Homo sapiens: one gene and its partners. The protein of the gene in region 2 interacts with the protein of the main gene of each other region in a biochemical or structural test. Each region holds a gene or a part of one and is shown on either strand. Other genes may lie near its edges. The genes, in order: CRHR1, GOPC and RPS6KA1.

The links.
Region 1: the proteins of GOPC (region 2) and CRHR1 form a complex in vitro, tested with the Homo sapiens proteins (2 studies listed by BioGRID and IntAct, with this or other methods).
Region 3: the proteins of GOPC (region 2) and RPS6KA1 interact in a test that uses a peptide from one of them, tested with the Homo sapiens proteins (2 studies listed by BioGRID and IntAct, with this or other methods).

Annotation. Positions count from the first base shown.
Region 1 is NC_000017.11:45,815,225-45,818,972, reverse strand, and holds part of CRHR1 (corticotropin-releasing factor receptor 1 isoform 2 precursor), read right to left. Parts: intron 2,511-3,748; coding exon 2,391-2,510; intron 1-2,390. Other genes in the region: LINC02210-CRHR1 (CRHR1-IT1-CRHR1 protein), read right to left, coding at 2,391-2,414.
Region 2 is NC_000006.12:117,600,392-117,604,139, reverse strand, and holds the start of GOPC (Golgi-associated PDZ and coiled-coil motif-containing protein), read left to right. Parts: upstream 1-1,628; 5' UTR 1,629-1,851; coding exon 1,852-2,136; intron 2,137-3,748.
Region 3 is NC_000001.11:26,532,684-26,536,431, reverse strand, and holds part of RPS6KA1 (ribosomal protein S6 kinase alpha-1), read right to left. Parts: intron 1-3,748. UniProt on the Homo sapiens protein: Serine/threonine-protein kinase that acts downstream of ERK (MAPK1/ERK2 and MAPK3/ERK1) signaling and mediates mitogenic and stress-induced activation of the transcription factors CREB1, ETV1/ER81 and NR4A1/NUR77, regulates translation through RPS6 and EIF4B phosphorylation, and mediates cellular proliferation, survival, and differentiation by modulating mTOR signaling and repressing pro-apoptotic function of BAD and DAPK1.

The DNA of each region.
Region 1 (3,748 bases), on a different chromosome or scaffold from region 2:
ATCCGAAAGAAAGCAGGCCCAACAAGCAGGGAGCCGTTGCCAGGGAGGATGCGACCTCCTTGTCTTTAATTGCTGAGCTGAGCAGTCCTCCCAAAGAATCACGGGAAAATAGATATTTTTGGAAATGCTTCCCATCCCTTTGAAGATCAGATGCAGCAGGAGGGAGGGCATTAGGGAGAAGGCCTAGAAGTCCTGGCAGCAACTCATCAGTAAATGGATTAATTAGTGCTTAATGATGAGGTGCAGCTCTGGGTACCCACTTGTGACTGACTGCACGGGCGTGCTCCACCTCATCTGGCGCTGGAGGCACCTGGAAAGGGGTCTTCCAGCCCTGCCCTCACAGACTGACCCCATGTCGAGAGGCCATCACCCCAGCTCCTTTCCTGGGATCACAGAGGGAAGTGCGGGGGAGCCTAGAGAGCACCACACTCAATCCTCCCACCCATTCTGCAGGTGTAGAAACTGAGGCCCACAGAAGGTCTGTGCCAAGGGCTACTTAACCAGCTGCAGATGCAGCTGGAATGAGAACTTAGGACTCCTGACTGCCACTTCAGGCAGGGCCAGCAAGTGAAGTGTGTGCCCAGGCACTGAGGGCTGAAAATGTTTATCTGGAGCATGTCAAGTAACCCTTTGCAACGGGAGCAGAGGGAACTCATGGGGGGTGGCCAGGGCTGGCTGCAAAAGGTGACAGGGCCATGACCACAGACAGCCTGGCCGGCCCCACCCAGCAGCCTGAACACGGAGGCCACACAAGAGTGGGTTCCAAGTGAAGGAGTGACCAACTCAGATCTGAAACCTGAGGCTGGGCGGTGGCGCTGGGGAGTGGGGGCAGGTAGGCCCAGACACGAGGATCACTCTGGAAGTGGACATGACAGGAACTGGTGCCTCCTCCTGGAAGCTCCTCTGATGTGCAGATGCTGCCTCCTTCCTAGGGGCTCCAGAAGGACTCAGCCCCCAGCATCGTGAGAGTTATCGTCCCTGGGCTGTGACCCTGCCTCCAGGCTCTGCGACCTCCGATAGGTTATTAGCCTCTCTGTGCCTCAATTTCCTTATTACAAAATGGGCCTGACTATATTGGGGGCTGGCCAACTGTGCACCCCTTGGACTGACCTGGCCAAGAGGCCCTTCTTCCTTTCTGCACTTCCTCCCCTTGGCCCCCAAGCCCCTCCCAGTGTGTCTTCTCCCTCTCCCGAGTCCCTCCCATGGCCAGGACATGGTACAGACACACGAGGCTGCTAGATCTGGCTGCCCCAGCCTCCTGCCCTGCCCTGGCCTCCCAAGTCACTCCCTGGGGAGTCACTTTCTGGCTGGGTCTTCCTACTCCTCTGCTGTAGCCCCCAACCTTAACACCCCAAATCCATCTGGTAGAGGAAAGAGGGGCAGGAGAAGGAATCTGGGAGTTTTGAGCTGGAAGACATCTTAGAAGCCAAGCCATCCAGCCCTCTCCATCCTCAGATGAGGGGCTGAGGGCCAGATGAGGGGCAACAATGTGCTGGGAGGTCACACAGTGAGTCTTGGAGTAAACTACATGGTGTCTGGGCTCACCCCTGTGCCCTCTTGGGACTCTGAGTTCAAGACCACAAGGACCCAAGGGTGCACACAGGAGGCCCCAATTGCAGGGATCAGGCCCCCAGCCTCCCCTCAGGTAGGTTAGGGCTCCTGGCCCACAGCTGTTGCTCTCTTGATAAGCAGGGACCTGACTCATTGACAGGGGAGAGCAAATTAATTCTGAGAGTGGCAGGCGGAATAGCAGGGAGCTGCAAAGCCCGGCTCTGGGGGTTTCGGGCCTCCGGGGAGCCAGGTGTTTACATGAGGATCAAGTATCCGACGGACCCTGGGTCAACCCCGTCCTGCCCCACTCCACCTACAAATCCAGGATGCAAGTTGAGCCTGTGCCTGTGCATCTGAAACTCTGGGTCCCCTGCCTCCTGGCTGGAGGGCCCGGGGTAGGCCTCAGAACCTCTCGACTCAAGGTTCTTATCCACACAGCTGGGGCTCTGATGATTCCTGCCCTGCTTCATGGTATTACAGTAGGCTCAAACAGACTAACCTGAAGTTTAATGGCAGAAGAAAGTGCCAGACAGACGTGGATGCAAATTCCAGCTTCACCCCTTACCAGCTGCCAATGGGGCAAGTTCCCTAACCTCCCTGAGCCCCAGGGGCCTTAGTTATAGGAGGCGTGATAGTGTCTTGCAAGGGTATTGTGAGAATCACGAGTAATGAGCACAGGGCACCCAGGAGAATACAGCGCTGACCTTTGGAAAACAGGGGCGATCCCCACAAGAGGTATTACTGTTATTGTCATCGTCATTCTTCCTTCCCCCACCTCCAAGCTCTCCCCATCCTGTCCCACCTCCCAGCAGATGGTCCACCCTCCACTTCTTCCTTACTTGTGGTATTGTAGCGGACACCATAGAAAAAGGCAGGGCAGGGCCGAACCACTAGCTGCCCCGCAGGGCTGCGGGGCCAGCAGGTGCCAATGAGGTCCACGGATGCGTTGCACTGCAGTCCTGGGGGCAGAGACGGCTGGTAAGGCACAGCAAGATATCCGGCCAAGGCCCCAGGCAGGCAGAGGACATTCCAGAGTTCTGCCCACCTCCCCACTCGTTCCCACTCACACCAGCTAGGGACAGGATGACAACAATGACCAGTGCAGAAATGAGCTCATCCTATGCAAAGAAGACACAAGGGGAAGAAATCTGAATCTGATGCTATGGTACTAGGGAGCCAGCATGGGTTCCAGAGCAGAGGAGGAAGAGAGATGGCTGGAGGTGGTGTTAAAAGCTAAGGTCCTGGCATTTAGAGGAAGCCTGGGCATGCTTCTGGTCCCCTGCTCTGTAGCCTAAGGACACTTCTCTTGGTCCCTCGCATGGTGACAGCCTGGAGCTCTGAGACATCACAGGAACACCCTGGAACAGACCCATCCAATCATTGACCTAGCCCCTCACGTCTCTGCAATCAAACCACATCTACCCTGGCCCTGCAGGGAAGAATCAGCTAAATGAAGTTGGCCCTCCTTCCGGCTGGCCTGTTCCTTCTTCCGGCTGGCCTGTTAACCACACTTACTGACCATACGTCACGTGTACTTTGTTCTGTGCAGGGCCCTAGGACAGGACTGATGGAGAAGTGAGCTATGGAGAGGAAAGGGAGGGAGACACCATCTGGGGGAGTGGAAAGGACACACTGAACTGGGAGTCTGGGCCCACTGCTTCAGAATGGGCTGTGCCACTAATTTGCTGTGAGATCATAGGCAAGTCACTTGCCCTCTCTGGGCCTTAGTGTCTTGTCTTCATCTATAATAAAATCAAGTGGTTGAACCAGATCAGAAATTCTTAATCTCAGCCCACTGGAAACTTCAACAGTTCACAGAGACCCTGAATGTAATGAAAATATTGGTGTATACATGCATTTTAATGGGGAAATGGGCCCACGGCTTTCATTAGATTCTCAAAGGGGTCTGTGACTCAAAGAGATATAAACATCTGAACTAGAAAGAAGATGTCAAAGTCCCCTTCCAAATATTTGCTTTTTGGAGGAGAGAGAGAGAGCACGCGAGAGAGAGAGGATGTTGGGGCAGAGTTGAGGCCCAGTGACACTTCAGGAGGGGAGGGTGGATATGGCCTCCAAAGGGTGGGGGCTGGCACAGTCCTGGCACCCCCCTGAGGCTGCCCCTTCTTTCTCTGCCTTTTAGTGCCTCCCTCTGAGTGAGGCTGGCACACCAGTCCTTTTGAGCCCCAGTGTCCCCAGG
Region 2 (3,748 bases):
TCAAGCCAAAGGACTTTATTGCTTCATGCTAACCAGTCTGCCATGCAGTACAAAGACTGCAATAATAAAATTGTGATTTCTTGCTCCTCAGTTGCCTTGCATCAGCGAAGGGCACACAATGCAGGCTTTGGGTTGTGATTAACCGTAAGGGTCTGCCCCAAGAACAGATAACAGCAGACTGCACTCAGCTAAATATGCTTCTAGGTAATGCAGGAGTTTCCACCAGCCTACTCTAATCACACAGGTTTCTCTTTCCCTTTCTAGGACTGTCTACCCTTGAACTGGAAGTAGGCAGAATGTAAAGAGAGGAGTTGCTGGATACTTTTAAAGGCACTGAAAAATTCAAGTTAAAGTTATAGTTGAGGGGTAGTAGCCTCACTAGCCTATCTTGAGTAAGGGTCATGTCTCATTCATTTTTGTGTCTTCAATGTCGCAACAGAGCTCTGCATTCAATATATTTGTAAATATATGAATTCACAATTTTGATTTTCTGAAATGTCACGTGTGAGGACACTACCAGTTTTCAAATAAATACACCTTTTAAAGTACAGTTATGTGCCAAATAACAAGGCTTCAGCAATGAATGGATCGCATAAACTATGGTGATCCTATAAGAGTATATGACTGTACCTTTTCTATGTTTAGATATGTTTAAGTACACAAATAGTTACCACTGTGTTATAATCGCCTACCGTATCCAGAATGGCAACATGCTGTACAGGTTTACAGCCTAAGAGCAATAGGCTACATCATATAGCCTGGGTGTGTAGTAGGCTATACTATCTAGGTTTGTGTTTAAATACACTCTAGGATGTTCCCTAAGGGATGATTAACCTAAGGACACATTCCTAAGAACATATCCCCATCTTAAGTGAAGCACTACTGTAGTTGCTTTTGAAATGTGTGACCTATGGTGTATTAAGAGGAATACCGTGTGCCAAGAAGTGACGCTAAGCGTTTTACCTTACAACTGAGTTAAGTAAAATTTGGAAACTTGGTTTCGAGGTTAATACATGAAAGGCGACACAGGTAGTATGTGACAGAGGGTAAGAATTGAATCCAGGTCTACCTGACTCTTAATCACAAGACAAAAAGTCTTCTATTAATTCCGCAAAATCTGGTCAGCCGCTTCAATGCGCAGCTTTAGGCAGTCCACACCTGGAATTTGGGGTCTGGTTTACCAAGAACAGCCAGTGTGTACACCCACTCCATCCTATCCAGGAACTGGAATCGAGAAGGTAAAAACGTGGCTATTGCGCATGCTCACACCGCCCTTCCTTGCTCTCCCCTCCCTGACCCTAGATGCCACCGCAGCAACTTTCTGGGAGGATTTTGGAACGGCTCCCGCCAACTGTTAAGTCAAACCGGCGGAAATCCTTCCTTTCTGCGACGTGGACACCTTTCTCATCCTCGGGCCTTTCCAACCAGGGTGCAGAAACCACGCGCCTCCGTTTCTCAGGGATTCAAGCCGTAGTTTGCCAGTTGTTAATATGGCCGCTGACAGGCCGCTCCCAAGCTGAGGCCTTTCATAGGCCAAGATCGCATCCTGTCCCCGCCTATTTTGTCCCTCGTGGCTGCGTCCGCCCAGCTCTTCGCTACGCATGCGCAGCGGGGGCAGGCTGGGAGGTGGGACTGACTGAGTCTTCCGTGTGTCGCCGCCGTTGCCGCCTCAGCTTCAGCCTCGTTACTCCTGCGGTTCTGTGACTGTGCTGCTGGCGTTAACGGCGCGAGGTGAAGGGAGGTGACGGAGTGTGCCCGCGCGCGCGGGGGTCCCCTCAGTCCCAGCAGTTCCCTTCGTGCGCGGGGGGCGGCGAGGGTCTTCAGCAGTCGGGAGAGGCCCTTGACGGCGCCATGTCGGCGGGCGGTCCATGCCCAGCAGCAGCCGGAGGGGGCCCAGGGGGCGCCTCCTGCTCCGTGGGGGCCCCTGGCGGGGTATCCATGTTCCGGTGGCTGGAGGTGCTGGAGAAGGAGTTCGACAAAGCTTTTGTGGATGTGGATCTGCTCCTGGGAGAGATCGATCCAGACCAAGCGGACATCACTTATGAGGGGCGACAGAAGATGACCAGCCTGAGCTCCTGCTTTGCACAGCTTTGCCACAAAGCCCAGTCTGTGTCTCAAATCAACCACAAGCTGGAGGTGAGCCGTGGGTGCTGGCGGCTATGGCATCCAACCCCAGGCTGCCCGGTGGCGTCAGATGCCATTTAACGCTCCAGTGAAACGACCCTAGAAAACTGCCCACCGGGGCTTCAAATGTGATGGGAGAGTGCATGTCTGAGGAGTGAGGTGAGGGTGGGGGACAAAAAGGGCCCTAGACCGACGTGTGAGTTCCCGGGGTACTGTCGTCCACCTTCCTAGTATCTCTCTGAGGAGGAAACTAATTACATACACCAGCCTCCATTGCACATGTTACATTAACAAACCTAACAAAGATTCTCTGTCATGAAAATACCGTAGGCCACCTTTTGACAACTGAGTTTTGCAGATCTGCTTTCACATTGATAAACCGAATTTGTATATGTTAAGACAGATACAGCACTGATTATTTTCATTTTAATTATTCCAGGTCAGCGCCTATGATTGCATACAGAGACATGCATAAACTATTTAGGGGAATCTGATCAAAGCTCTTAGGAAAATTTCGTGGTGCATAACGATAGTATCACTGTCTCGGTTTACATCCATAGTTGGTTGTTAAATTACAGGCAGATACCTCCAGAGAGCTCCCTGCAATTATTGAAATTACTTCTGACCTTGAGTTTTTATATGCTTGTACATTACTGTGTAATTTTCCAAAGTCTGGATTTATTTTTGAGAGAGTGTAAAGAATCATTTGCTTTAATCTCTGATCCTGGGTGTGGGTGAGGGTGGAGTGGCTGTGGTTCAAAAAAACAAAAATATCATATTGTGCAGAAAATTTAAAAAGGACATTATTAAAATATTTAGAAATCAAGATAGATTAACATTATTGCATAAAGAGTACTTTCTAACTAGGCAATTTAAGAGAATGGGTCTTTCTTTTCAAAAAGTGTAATAGATAAAAATGGGATAATCAGTGATGTGCAAAACTCTGAACATGCTTTCCTAAGAAATCATCATTACTCGTTGTCATTGACAGTGCCCATTATATCTATATCAATATGAATGTCAGTTAAACATCCTCTCCTTGCCTAGTGGTCAGCATTCTTTCTCTCCTATTAGCCATGAAATATGTGGCATAATTAATCTTTGATTAACATAGATTTACATATCCAAGAATTGTGGCTCTTCTCCACTGCGAGAACTGTTAATTTCTTCTATCCTTTTTGAAAAGATTAGAAAGTGCTAATATGAAGGTAATCACTTCTTACTGTAGGTAAATGAAAACATCTCTTGATTTCTTTATTGGTAGTAATTTCCACAAGAAAGCTATTTTTCTCAGATAGTGAAATTGCATTTAATGTTTTCTAGAAATAGTACTTTAACTTTATTTCATCTTATTTTATCTTATTATATTTTTTTCAAAAAAGAGATGGAGTGCTTTGTTGCCCAGTTTGGTCTTGAATTCCTGGCCTCAGGTGATCCTCCTGCCTTGGCCTCCCAAAGTGCTTTGATTACAGACATGAGCTACTGTGCCTGGCCATTAGTTCTCTAGCTTTAAACAACAAAGATCAAGAGTAGCCTTTACCACATGGTATAATTCGAATGTGTCCCCCAAATTTCGTGTATGGGAAACTTAATCCTCAATGTGACAGTATTGAATCTCCAATGT
Region 3 (3,748 bases), on a different chromosome or scaffold from region 2:
TGGCTATCCTTGCCCTGCCCCACTCTGGGACCCCTCCCCTGACCTTGCCAGGCAGAATGACTGCTGCCTCCACTTCAGCCTTCATTGTAGCACTTGTCCCACTGCAGGGACTATTTACACACAGGCCTGCCCTTCCTAATAAATGGGGAGTCCCACGAGGGCAGAGACGAGGGCTTGGGGCTAACAGCTGCTCTCTTCCAAGCCTCTGCCACATGGCAGGCACTGGGCTCAGTGCCTCGCACCTGTGGCACCACTTTTTTTTTTTTTTTTTTTTTTTTTAGACAGAGTTTTGCTCTGTTGCTGAGGCTGGAGTGCAGTAGTGCAATCGCAGCTCACTGCAACCTCCGCCTCCCAGGTTCAAGCGATTCTCCTGCCTCAGCCTCCCAAGTAGCTGGGATTACAGGCGTACGCCACCATGCCCGGCTAATTTTTGTATTTTTTTTAGTAGACACGGGGTTTCACCACGTTGGCCAGGCTGGTCTCAAACTCCTGACCTCAGGTGATCCGCCCGCCTCGGCCTCCCAAAGTGCTGGGATTACAGGTGTGAGCCACTGCGCCTGGCCCCTGTGGCACCATTTAATCCTCATGACAGCCCTGGGAGGTAGGCCCTGGCCCCATGTGGCAGAGAAGGAAACTGAGGCTCTGAGGGGACCTAGTGATGATGCCTATGGTCACACAACTGGTGAGTGGGGATTCAAAATCTGGTCCCAAATCCAGGAGGTGCTCCAAACAGGTCAGCTGAGAAACAGCCCAGAGCCCAGAGCCCCCCTCTGGTCAGTCTTGCCTTTTCCAGCCCCCAGACTTCACTCTCAGGTGGTTATTAAATATGCTGGGGTGTGTCAAACCCAGCCCATCTGTTTCCTGTGTGATGTGAGGCAAGTAACCTACCCTATCTGGGCGTTTGGAAGCTGAAAGAAATTGCCCCACCCCTCCTAGAACAGGGAGAGTGTGGTGAGGCAGACAGGAGGTTCCCAACAGCTAGGAAGGCCTGCTCTAGAACAGGTCTGGATCTGGACTTTGGAGCCAGGAGCTGGGTCCATGGGGCAGCTGTAGCCCTGCTTGGCTACAGCTGGGTAGGCACAGCTGTGCTCTACCCATTACATAATCTCCCTGCCCCTGGAACAGCTCCCCATTGCCACTCCCAGGACATCCTGCCCCCTGAGCCCCTTTAATGCCCCTAATCTCTCCCCAGGGGCCAAATGTTCTACAGGCCCCTCCATGCACACATCCATACACACACTGTCATCTCTCAGCAGCCTGGGGAGAAGGGATGGGTTGGTCAGGGCCCAGGGGCTGGGCTGTGGTAGGGATGCTTTTGTAGACTGAGCTCCACTTCACCCAGCATTCTAGACTCTTGACATAATTCCTGCAGATGATCAGAACAGCCTACCCACCAGCTCCCTGCCCCACAGCCTTCCCCACTCCAAACCCTCATCATTCCTAAAATCAAGTGCAACTGCTGCACTCAACTCACTCAGTCAACATTTGCTGAGAACCTTCTATGTACCAGGCCCCAAACCCCTCTGTGGCTTCCACTGCCTGTAGAATCAAGTCCCAGCTCCTTAGCATAGAAATCAAGGCCATCATCTTCAACTGCCCAGCACAATAACTAGGAATGTAGGTTTTGCAACCTGACCTTGTGGGTTCAAATTCTGGCTTCTACCACCTGCGTGACCCCTAGAAGGTTAGTTCATTTACTGGGGCTTCAGTTTCCTCATCTGTGAAATGCGGATCAAAGTAACATACCTCAATGGTGGCGGCAAGAAGCAAATGAAATAATGCCTATAAATATATACACCTGACATGTAACTGGCCTACAAACAATAGCCATTCTTATCATTGGGCCCTATTTTTGAGCTAAACTGAACAACCACAGACCCTGAAAACAGTCTATTTTATATCCCCAGCATTTGTATGGTGGCTCCCTCTACCAAGAAAGCCTTTCCTGCCTTGTCACTTTGGCAAACTCCTGATCTTTTATCAGGACTGAATTCAAATGTCACCCCTGTCCACACAGCCTCATGTTCTTTCCTCCCTCCTCTCTACCCCCATAACCTAAGCATGCTGCAGGTTAACTCGGGAAGGGGCCATGGCTTGTCCATCATCAACATCTTGGCACCCAGCCAGAGTCCAGCATGTGGTTTATCCAGTGAAAGTTCAACCCAGCAAAGACAGCAAGGAGGCCAGAGCAGGTTCTATTACTCCTATTTTTCAGATGAGGCTCAGGAGAGTTAAGGGACTCACCGAGGTCCCTCAGCAGGCAGGTGGCAGACATGTGACCATAACCCAAAGTCACGTGGCTGCAAGCCTACTGAGGGTGGGGAGGAAGGGGTAGGTGTACCTAGAGGTGTGGGTTTCTTGAGCAGTGGCCTGGATGACTTAGGGACCCCCCGCTCTAAGGCAGTCTGGCTGCCTCTACTCCCTGGATCTCTGGCTTGGGTGTCATTCTTATGGAACGCCAAACCTGTAAGAGTAAGGGAACAGGCAGCCCTGGAGAACAGACTGGTAGGGGGGTCAGGGGGGTTGTGGGGTGCTGGCTTCCCACTCAGAGCCTGGGTCCTGGGTCCGGGGTCATCTGCCCCTCTGGCCTGACTGCTGCATAGCAATCCTTGAAAGAACACAGCTGTGCAGCCACAAAGATACAGCCACTAATCCTAGCTCTGCCAGCCACTTATTCTGCCCTTGGGTCTGTCATATCACTTTTTATTTTTATTTTTATTTATTTTTTGAGACAGTTTCACTCTTTTGCCCAGGCTGGAGTGCAGCGGCGCAATCTCAGCTCACTGCAACCTCTGCCCCGCTGGGTTCAAGCAATTCTTCTGCCTCAGCCTCCCAAGTAGCTGGGAATATAGGCCGCACCACCACACCTGGCTAATTTTTGTATTTTTAGTAGAGGCGGGGTTTCGCCATGTTGGCCCAGCTGGTCTCAAACTCCTGACCTCAGGTGATCCACCCGCCTCAGGCTCCCAAAGTGCTAGGATTACAGTCATGAGCCACCACGCGTGGCCTCATATCACTTTTTGAAGTCTCAGTTTCGGCCAGGCGCAGTGGCTCATGTCTGTAATCCCAGCACTTTGGGAGGCTGAGGCCAAGAGGCCTCACAGATCACGAGGATCACGAGGTCAAGAGATCGAGACCATCCTGGTCAACATGGTGAAAACCTGACTCTACTAAAAATACAAAAATTAGCTGGGCATGGTGACACGGGCCTGTAGTCCCAGCTACTCAGGAGGCTGAAGCAGGAGAATCACTTGAACCCGGGAGGTGGAGGTTGCAGTGAGCCGAGATCACGCCACTGCACTCCAGCCTGGTGACAGAGCAAGACTATGTCTCAAAAAATAATAATAGTAATAAAGTCTCAGTTTCCTCATCTGTATCACGAGGGCAGGTGTGTCTTGCTGACATCTGCACTTTGTTGTCTGAAATAGTACTTATCACCTAAGTGCTAAATAAATGACTGAATGGGGACAATGGTGCTGACCTTGCAGAGTACTGAATGAAGGACTTTGTCTTAGGAGTCCTTTGGCCTCTTAGAGGTTGAAGACCCACACTCCTCCCTCTTCCTCAGAGAGCACTGCTCATGAGGACAGATGCCCAGGGCCCCAGACCACTGCCCCCAGTTCTGAGATGTCAGAAATGGGTTCCAACTGGCATCATTCCTTCCCACCCAAGCAACTCTGTCTTAGAAAGAGGGGCCCAGGGCAGCGTCTGGAGAAGCTGGGCAGCAGATGGAGAAGGACAGCACGTG